Linked DNA regions of Homo sapiens. The protein of the gene in region 2 purifies or fractionates together with the protein of the main gene of each other region. This does not show direct contact. Each region holds a gene or a part of one and is shown on either strand. Other genes may lie near its edges.

The links. The genes of interacting proteins can lie anywhere in the genome.
Region 1: the proteins of CYLD (region 2) and CSE1L purify together in Homo sapiens (affinity purification with mass spectrometry, with the first as the bait; 2 studies listed by BioGRID). This does not show direct contact.

The regions. Positions count from the first base shown.
Region 1 is NC_000020.11:49,049,312-49,053,535, reverse strand, and holds part of CSE1L (exportin-2), read right to left. Parts: intron 1-4,224. UniProt on the Homo sapiens protein: Export receptor for importin-alpha. Mediates importin-alpha re-export from the nucleus to the cytoplasm after import substrates (cargos) have been released into the nucleoplasm.
Region 2 is NC_000016.10:50,775,722-50,780,735, reverse strand, and holds part of CYLD (ubiquitin carboxyl-terminal hydrolase CYLD), read right to left. Parts: intron 4,558-5,014; coding exon 4,459-4,557; intron 2,912-4,458; coding exon 2,795-2,911; intron 1,072-2,794; coding exon 692-1,071; intron 1-691. UniProt on the Homo sapiens protein: Deubiquitinase that specifically cleaves 'Lys-63'- and linear 'Met-1'-linked polyubiquitin chains and is involved in NF-kappa-B activation and TNF-alpha-induced necroptosis.

The sequences.
Region 1 (4,224 bases), on a different chromosome or scaffold from region 2:
CTACTAAAAATTAGCCATGCCTGGTAGCACATGCCTGTAATCCCAGCTACTTGGGAGGCTGAGGCAGGAGAATTGCTTGAACCTGGGAGGCAAAGGTTGCAATGAGGCGAGATTGCGCCATTGCACTCCAGCCTGGGCAACAAGAGAGAAACGCAGTCTCAAAAAAAAAAAAAAAAAAAAAAAAAAAAGTTAGTTTGCTGTGGTCAAGTTAAATCATTAACATCAGTGTATCTGAGTTAAAGGAAATTGGCCTTTCTTTGCCATATGCAAATTTATTCTACCTTTGGGGATTCATGCAAGGCAGATTGTTAGAAACTTGGGTGGGGAGGGTGCAGGGGCAGATTTACAGATCTATTTTGTCTTTAAAAAAAAAAAAAAAAAAAAAAAAGAGAGACAGGGGGTCTCACTGTATTGTCCAGATTGGATTCTAACTCCTGAGCTCAAACAATCCTCCTGCCTCAGCCTCTGGAATAGCTGGGACTACAGGCATATGCCACCACACAGGGCTTATTTTCTTGATTTTTAAAAATACACTTCTTAATAAATCTGCATTTCACTTTCTTCATTATGTTTCTCTAGCATTTGTATATTTCTCAACTAAAACTCCTTAGATTCCTCATAATTACTTGTCTTAAACACCCAAACTCCTGGCCAGGTGCAGTGGCTGCCGCCTGTTAGCCCAGCATTTTGGGAGGCCAAGGCAGGTGGATTGCTTCAGCCGGCTTCAGACCAGCCTGGGCTAACACAGCAAGACCCTGTCTCTACTAAATATACAAAAAATTAGCCAGGTGTGGTGGCACACACCTGTAGATCCAGCAAATTGAGACTGCTGTGAGTTGTGATCAGGCCACTGCACTACAGACTGGGCAATGGGAGTGAGACCCTATCTCCAAAACAACCACCACCACCACCACCACCACCAAATCCCTTACCACAGCAGGGTCTAAGCAATCTGGTATCTACTGACCTCATCTCCTACCTCCTCCTGGCTCTTGCTACATTCCAGGCACAAAAGCCTTCTGTTCTACAAACTGGCCACAAGAGTTCTCCCTGACCATAATAATGCTCATCCTCTAATTTGATAATGGACACCATTCAGCACTCAGCCCACTGTCAACTCTTCAAAAAGGCCTTCTACGATTACCATCTACATCATCCTTGTTTTACTGTGTTAGCAATTACCCTCATTTGAAATAAACTTCTTTGTCGTCTCATACACACACTAGACTGCAAGCTCCTGAGGGCAGGGACTTTCGTCTGTATGCTCAGGACCTTCAGCATTACCTGGCACACAGTACATATTTAGTAAGCATTTGTTGTATGAACTAAAGGATAAGTCACAACATGTCAGTCACCCAGCAAAACATGAGTTTCCAGTCAAGACTGGAGACTATCCCTTCAGATCAATCATTAGCAGCCCCAACATAATGTGGGAACTCAGTTGCATGAATGTCAGATGAACAAATGACCAACTTAACTGCCACAATTAAATTTGTTTATTCAAAAGTACTTCAAGAAAGTGAATTTTTAGATTTGTTCTGGCCTGGCAGAATGGCTCATGCCTGTAATCCCAGCGCTTTGGAAGGCCGAGGCGGAAGGATCACTTGAGGCTAGGATTTCAAGACCAGCGTGGGCAACATAGTGAGACCCTGTCTCTACAATAAATAAAAATTAGCCAGGCATGGTGGCGAGCACTTGTAGTCTCAGCTGCTCTGGAGGCTGAGGCAGAAGGACTGGTTAAGCTCAGAATTTTAAGGCTGCAGTGAGCTATGATCATGCCATTGCATTCCAATCTGGGCAACAGAGTAAGACTCTGTCTCTGAAAAAAGATAAAATTTATCCTGTATTACCTGTTCAAACATGCCAGTGATTTTACTTTTGTTTCAGGGTTCTGTACTTACCATTCCTTCTGCCTGCAGAGCTCTGCACACGGAAAGCTACAAGGTTTGCACTGCCCACTTCATTCTCATTCAGGACTCTTGTTTTTTTTGGAGACAGGGGTCTTTGCTCTGTCACCCAGGCTGGAGTGCAGTGGCGTGATCTCAGCTCACCGCAGTCCCCGCCTCCCAGGTTCAAGCAATTCTCCTGCCTCAACCTCCCAAGTAGCTGGGACTACAGGTGCGTGCCACCACGCCCGGCTGAGTTTTATATACAGTAAAGATGCGGTTTCACCGTGTTGGCCAGGCTAATCTCAAACTCTTGACCTCAGGTGATCTGCCGCCTCAGCCTCCCAAAGTGCTGGGATTACAGGCATGAGCCACCGTGCCCGGCCTGGAAGGACTCTTTTCAAATGTCATCTTTTTTTCAGAGATGCCTTGCTGCACCATCCTATCTAAAAGAGCATTCACCTCAGTTACTCTCCATGCCCTTACTCTACTATTTTCCAAGTACATTTTATCAGGCATATTAATTTCTTTTGTCATTTACTGTGCTTCTCTCTTCACTAGATTGTAAACTCCACTGATAGTAGGGACTTTGTGCTTTGTTCACTGCTCTCTCCCTAGAGCCTTACAATAGTGATGAGCACCCGTTATATATTTGTTGTACTATTTTAAAAAGCTAGATACCTTTGATGTTTCCATCAAAAATATTATTCTTCATCTTTATTTTGGTTGGTTGACTGTGTCAAACAGAAAGAGGTGGACACAACCTTCTAGATTCTAAAACCACAACAGGCTGAGCAAGGTGGCTCACTTCTGTAATCCCAGCACTTTGGGAGGTGGAGATGGGACGATCACTTGACCCCAAGGACCGTTCAAGACCAGACTTGGCAACAATAGTGAGATCCTGTCTCTACAAAAAATTTTAAAAATTAGCTGGGCTCAGGCCGGGCGCGGTGGCTTACGTCTGTAATCCCAGCACTTTGGGAGGCCGAAGCAGGCGGATCATCTGAGGTCAGGAGTTCGAGACCAGCCTGACCAATGTGATGAAACCCCGTCTCTACTAAAAATACAAAAAAAAAAAAATTAGCCGGGCGTGGTGGCATGCGCCTGTAATCCCAGCTACTCAGGAGGCTGAGACAGGAGAATTGCTTGAACCCGGGAGGCAGAGGTTTCAATGAGCCAAGACTGCACCATTGCACTCTAGCTCTAGCCTGGGCAACAAAAGTGAAACTCCCATCTCAAAAAAAAAAAAAAAAAAAAAAAAAAATTAGCTGGGCTTGGTGATACCCTCCTGTGGTCCTAGCTACTAGGGAAGTTGAGGCAGGAGGATTGCTTGAGCCCGGGAGGTCTAGGCTGCAATAAGCTGAGGTCTTGCCACTGCAGTCCAGTATGGGTGACTGAGTGAAACCCTGTCTCCAAAAATAAAATAAAATAAAATAAAATAAAATAAAAATAAATAAATAAAACCACATAATAGAATGAAACCTAAAATGATTAAGTTGAGATGCTAGGGTAGGACTATTTTTAAGTTTAAAAAAAAGTGAGGGGTTATATAAATATGCATGTTATAATCCCTCAAAGTTAAAATACTACATAGATCCCAGAATCTTAATACTCTTTTTTGAGACAGGGTCTGGGTCTGTTACCTAGGCTGGAGAAATGCAGTGGTGTAATTCTGGCCCACTGAAACCTCTGCCTCCTGGGCTCAAGCCATCCTCCTACTTCAACCTCCCAAGTAGCTGGGACTACAGGCACACACCACCACACCTGGCTAATTTTTGTGTTGTTTCTGTAGACATGGTTCCAGTGTTGCCCAGGCTGGTCTGGAACTCCTGAGCTCAAGTGATCCGCCCACCTTGGCCTTCCAAAGTTTATTCTTTGGGAATATTCTTTAAGGAACTATTTGTCAACAAATCCTTTTTATATCGCCTTGCAGATATAGTCTATAAAACCGAATTCTAAGCTTATCCTTAATTTGAGAAAATAAGAGAAATCAGGGACTTTTAGAGAACATTTTACAGGTATTCATAATTATCAACAAGATCAAGCTCTAATTATCTTATGCAACCACAAGTAAAGGTACTTTGACACTCTGAAATATTAGCAATATATAAATGCAAAAAGTGTTACTGATCTAAAAATGACTCAAACTAGAAACAAAACATTCATTTTGGCCAAGTAGGGTGGCTCATGCCTGTAATCCCAGCTCTTTGGGGGGCCAAGGTAAGCAGATTGGTTGAGTCCAGGAGTTTGAGACCAACCTGGGCAACATGGTGCCATCTCTACAAAAAAAAAATAAAAATTAGTTGAGTGTGGTGGTGCACGCCTGTAGTCCTAGCTA
Region 2 (5,014 bases):
ACCAGCCTGGGCAACATGGCAAAACCCTGTCTCTACTAAAAATACAAAAAATTACCAAGCATGATGGTACATGTCTGTAATTCCAGCTACTCAGGTGACTGAGGCAGGAGAATAGCTTGAGCCCAGGAGGTCGAGGCTGCAGTGAGCCCTGACCGTGCTACTGCACTCCAGTCTGGGTGACAGAGTGAGACCCCATCTCTAAATAAATCCTAAACATACTCAACTTCTCCTTTCCTGATTACAAAATATCAAATGATATGTTCTCCTGATCTCTAAAGGGAAAACCTTTCCCTCTAGCAAAGGTCTCAAAAGATCTCTAAAAATGGTGATTAACTTTAAAGCCAGTGATATAATTATTAGAACTGACCAGGGGAAGGGGCTGAAGAAGAAAGAGAAAAGCTGATGGCAAATTTGCTTGATTTACTAAATTCTGTTTAATATAAGGAGCCTAAATCGATTGGCCTAAAAATCAACTTTCATTCCTTGAACATAAATCAACTAACATTAGGACAAGTGGGTCGCAAGCTTCAGGGGCGGCAAAGGGAAGTCAGAAAACATGGTGAGAAAATTATTCTGCAGTGATAGCTTTTCTGACAAATATAACAGTTTGTCAAAAAGCATATAATAGGGCGAAATCTGCACAAAACCTCACAGAGAAAAAAATTGAAATTTTTGGGTCAAGTTAAATTACCAGTTCCAGTCCAGCGAGCACTTCATTCAGTCCTGGTGGCTGACCGATCCAACGGATTACCCCATAGAAAGGAGGGTTCTCCTTAACTTCAGCCAATGAGCCCACTTCTAGACCATGTGAGTTCCCAGGAGGCATGGCCAAGGGTGGACTCTCTTGGACGGGTGCAGTGTTTAGCTCTTCCATTACAGACTGGGCTGACAGAGAAAGTGGACTGTGGCCAATACTTCCATTGGTATTGGGCATCTTGGTGAGACTGAATGGTAAAGAGTGGAATCTGTTCTCGGTGGTCAGTGAGTTCACAGGAGGAGGCTGGAGTGGTGGTGAAGAACGGTCAAAGTCTGTAGATATCTCTGTAAGAGATTTTGCAGGGTCTTCTGCAACTAAAAAATTATTCCTAATTACAGAAATGTATTCAAGGATATTGACTCTGTCTTACATTTCTAAAAATTTATATACAGATCTAGTCCAACTGCCCACCTGACCTCCCTGCTATTAATAGTACTCTCATAGGCATCACAAAGTTATTATCTCCAACAGTGTTCTCGCTCCTCTCTCCACCTCCATATTTATGCACCTCAGTCAATGGCACCCAACTGTTCAAACCAAAAAAATCTATTATCAGCGGGTATCGTATACGTGATAGTCTTTGTCCAAAATACAATTAATTGAGAAGGCAGTACAAAAAGATACCGAAAACCTTAAGAAACGCTTCTATATATCTAATGGATCAAAAAAGAAATAATACGTTTTAACAATAAAGAAAAAAGAGAGAAAAAGTAACAAAGAAAGAAAGAATCCTTGTGAAACATGGCTAAATTAATACTTATAAGGGAATTTTATAGACTTCATTGCTTATTTCAGAAAAAAACAAAAGCTAAATATGAACTCAGCATACAACTTGGGAAGTTAAAAGAACAGAATAACCCTCAAAAAAGTAGAGAAGAATAAACTAAAGAACAGAAACAACAGAAGAGAGAAAACAAACATACAATAAGAAGTTCAAAGCCAGAATAAACACAAACACAGAATGTAATTTAAGAGAAACCAAACACATGATAAAGAGAGCCACAGCCAAAAGCTATTTTCTTAAAATGACTAATACAGCTGACAGGCAGGTATTGCAGATCAATGACAAAAGAATGAACTTCTTACTAAATGCTGTTGAGATAATTGGTTATCCATATTTTTAAAAAAAAATTAAACAGGAATCCTACTCATACTTTACATGAAAATCAGCTCCAGGTGCCTTAAAAACAAATGTGGCAGGCAAAACTCTAAAGGCTGGGAGACCACAGAGTCAGGCCTGTTTGCCTTTCCATTCTCATCTCATGAATGTCATGCCTCTGTCTGTGTTCTAGTCCCTGGCAAACACTAGCTTCCATTCTTCCAGGAGGACTTTCCCTATGCTATTTCTTCTCCCGAGGAAGTTCTAGCCCCTTTCACTTTGTCATCTGTCACTCCTCTGGTAAACCTAAGCATGTGTCACTGCCCCAAAGAAACACCCCTAAGACCCTGAGAAAAATCATCTTTGGTGTATTCTCACAGCATCATGCACCTTCACTGCACACACCACCAAGGCAACTCTACTGTGTCTGTGGTTGTTTGACTAATTTCTATCTCAACAACTTAACAACTGCAAACTCACAAAGGGCATGAACCATGTCTATTTTTTCTCACCATTTTCATCTTGATGCCTAAAAGAATGCCTGGCAATCATAAGCACTCAATAAATATTTGTTGAACAAATGAACAAAGAAGAGAATAAACTAGGTGAAAATGATGTCCCAGGACCAAGGGAAGATAAAATTTTTTAAAAGGGAGTGCTTTAAAGAGGTCAGGAAGGAACCAGACAGAAATCTTCCACCCTAAATAGATCAGCAGTTAAAGGAAAAGAACAAATTACTAATACATTTCTTAAACATTTTAATAATCTTAACAGCAGTACGGTTCAAACTGTGTACAATATTTTAGTTCAGCAATATTACAAAGAGCGGTCTACTTATTCTGTTTCCAAAAACTACAAATATTGATATAAAAAACCATTTTTCTCTGATGAGTTAGAAAGAAAGGATCATTATAAAGAACACTAAAATTACTGATTACCTTCATCAATGTACCATGTATTTTTTGATTTGGATTGTGGTTGTGAGTCAACAGAAGACCCATTTAAGGTATAAAATAATTCAGATCTGTTTCTATTTCCAGGGTCTGAGGTAGATCCTATAGGAACAAGAAAAGTTTCATTTAAAAATAAAGTCAATATAGCATCAAAGTTTTTTTTTAGTAAGAGAAATTATTATGAATATGATGTTAATAACTGTTTACATAACCAATAAATGTATATAAACACAATATGTTTTTTAACTGTCTTCAGCTTTTAAAAATTTGGTAACCATTTTGACAATATTAAAAATATTTTTCAGCCCAAAAGTCAAGATAGGAGGGAAACAGGAGTAAGTTAAAAGAAAAGCCCACTCATTTTTAAAAAAAATGAACTGCTTTAAGAAATTGTTCCATGTACCACAGCTTATTTCTAAATGTCAAAATCACCATTCTCCAGCTTCATTTCATAGACCCATTGGTTCACAAATTTAACCTATTATTTTAAAAGAAGGTAATCCTCAAATTCTATATATAAATCAATACACAAATTACATTTAAAAATAGTTAAGTTTTAAACATTTTGGAATTTTTGGTCATCAAATTCCTTGTGTCTTTGAAAAAATCAAGCACTATTATTTCTTACAGATTGGATTTATTATACGTGAGAGGGCGAGTGTAGCTATGCCACAGCCATTTCATGACATTACCCTGCCTCAGTATTAATTCAAGGACATACCACACACAGTGGAGGGCAGTGGGCTCTCCAGAACCCACAAAAAAGCTGATTTCCCTTTTCAAATTAAAGCAGGTAGCTGTACATTTTATAACTTTAAGATCTACTACAATACAATTAACATGCCATAGCTTAAGAAAATCTTTAGTCTGTTTCTATTTAAGTGAGAGTAGCAAGTTTGAGCTATCCTATATAGATCTATAGGTTAACATAAAAAAGACTGTTACCTATATATCCTGCAATTAATCCTAAGTCTCCCAGGCCCCAATGTCACATAAAATAATTCTTAAAGTACAATTTCCTTTTAAATGAGCCAAAATTGTAATAATTGAGGAAAAAATATTCTTTTCCTAACTCGCATCTGAGTTAACAAAAATTCTCAGAGCCTTTTTAATGAGCTCTTTGGCTTGTATAACTACTATTCTATAAATCTATGAAGTATGTGGAAGCTAACAAAAAAAAGAGCTGTAAGCTCCACACATATTGTGAGGAAGCTTCTGGGAAAGAGAAGAAATTTTTGCTTAGCAGTTTGGGATTTAATTTGTACCAAATCTAGTTAGCAAAATCCATTTAATTAACCTCTAGTATACTTTATCCTATATAACATTATCCATATAGGATTATTTTACACAGTTGCAATCCTAAACTATACATACAAATATTCCAAGTAAGGAGTTCCAAAAACCATTTGATTATAGACCAGCAAAACACACAAGACCCTATGGGGAACTCTTCCTGAGGTAAAAAAGGCTGGGAACACTTGGCTTAAGCAACAGTATTTATATACAAACTTTAGTTTCACTACTAAAAATGTTTGAAAGAAAAAAAGTCTACATACATGTTCAGAAGTAATAGCTTATAATCTTTTTTAATGCTATGGCAAGTTAGGCATTATGCAAATTACTAAAGGTTATATGCTATTAATCCATACCTGTAGCCTTTGGTTTATTATGACTGGATGAACCTTTGTCCCCAACACCTCTTGACATAAAGGCAAGTTTGGGAGGCCTCCTTTCCTGCGTCACACTCTCTGAAACAGTAAGCATGTTTTTTAAAGATAAAGGCAAATTCTTATAGAAGAGAAACAAGGAATGACAGTAACAAAATAAAAAAACCCTCTTTCCACAAAAAGGCAGAATTTTTAGTTTTACAAATGCCTTTTAAAGGCCATCAAAAGTATTGAAAAAGATAATACTATGGGGGAAAAAACCAATGCTGTATTTCAAAATGTAATTTCTATAAGAAAATACCCTCTCAAAATACAATTCAGCTAAATGCTTTAACCTCTTGAAAATTTAATCACTTGTAGTCAATTTTATTTGATCTCTTAAAACACTACAAAGAAAATCTTACTCGGTTTTTTACAGCATTTCCCAAATCAGCAGGCTTAGAACACCCCTGTGTATTATGAAGTGTTTCGAACTCAAATATTTCTTGAAGATGCTGAGATAAACAAAGATAAACAATTTCTTTACTGCACGGAACCA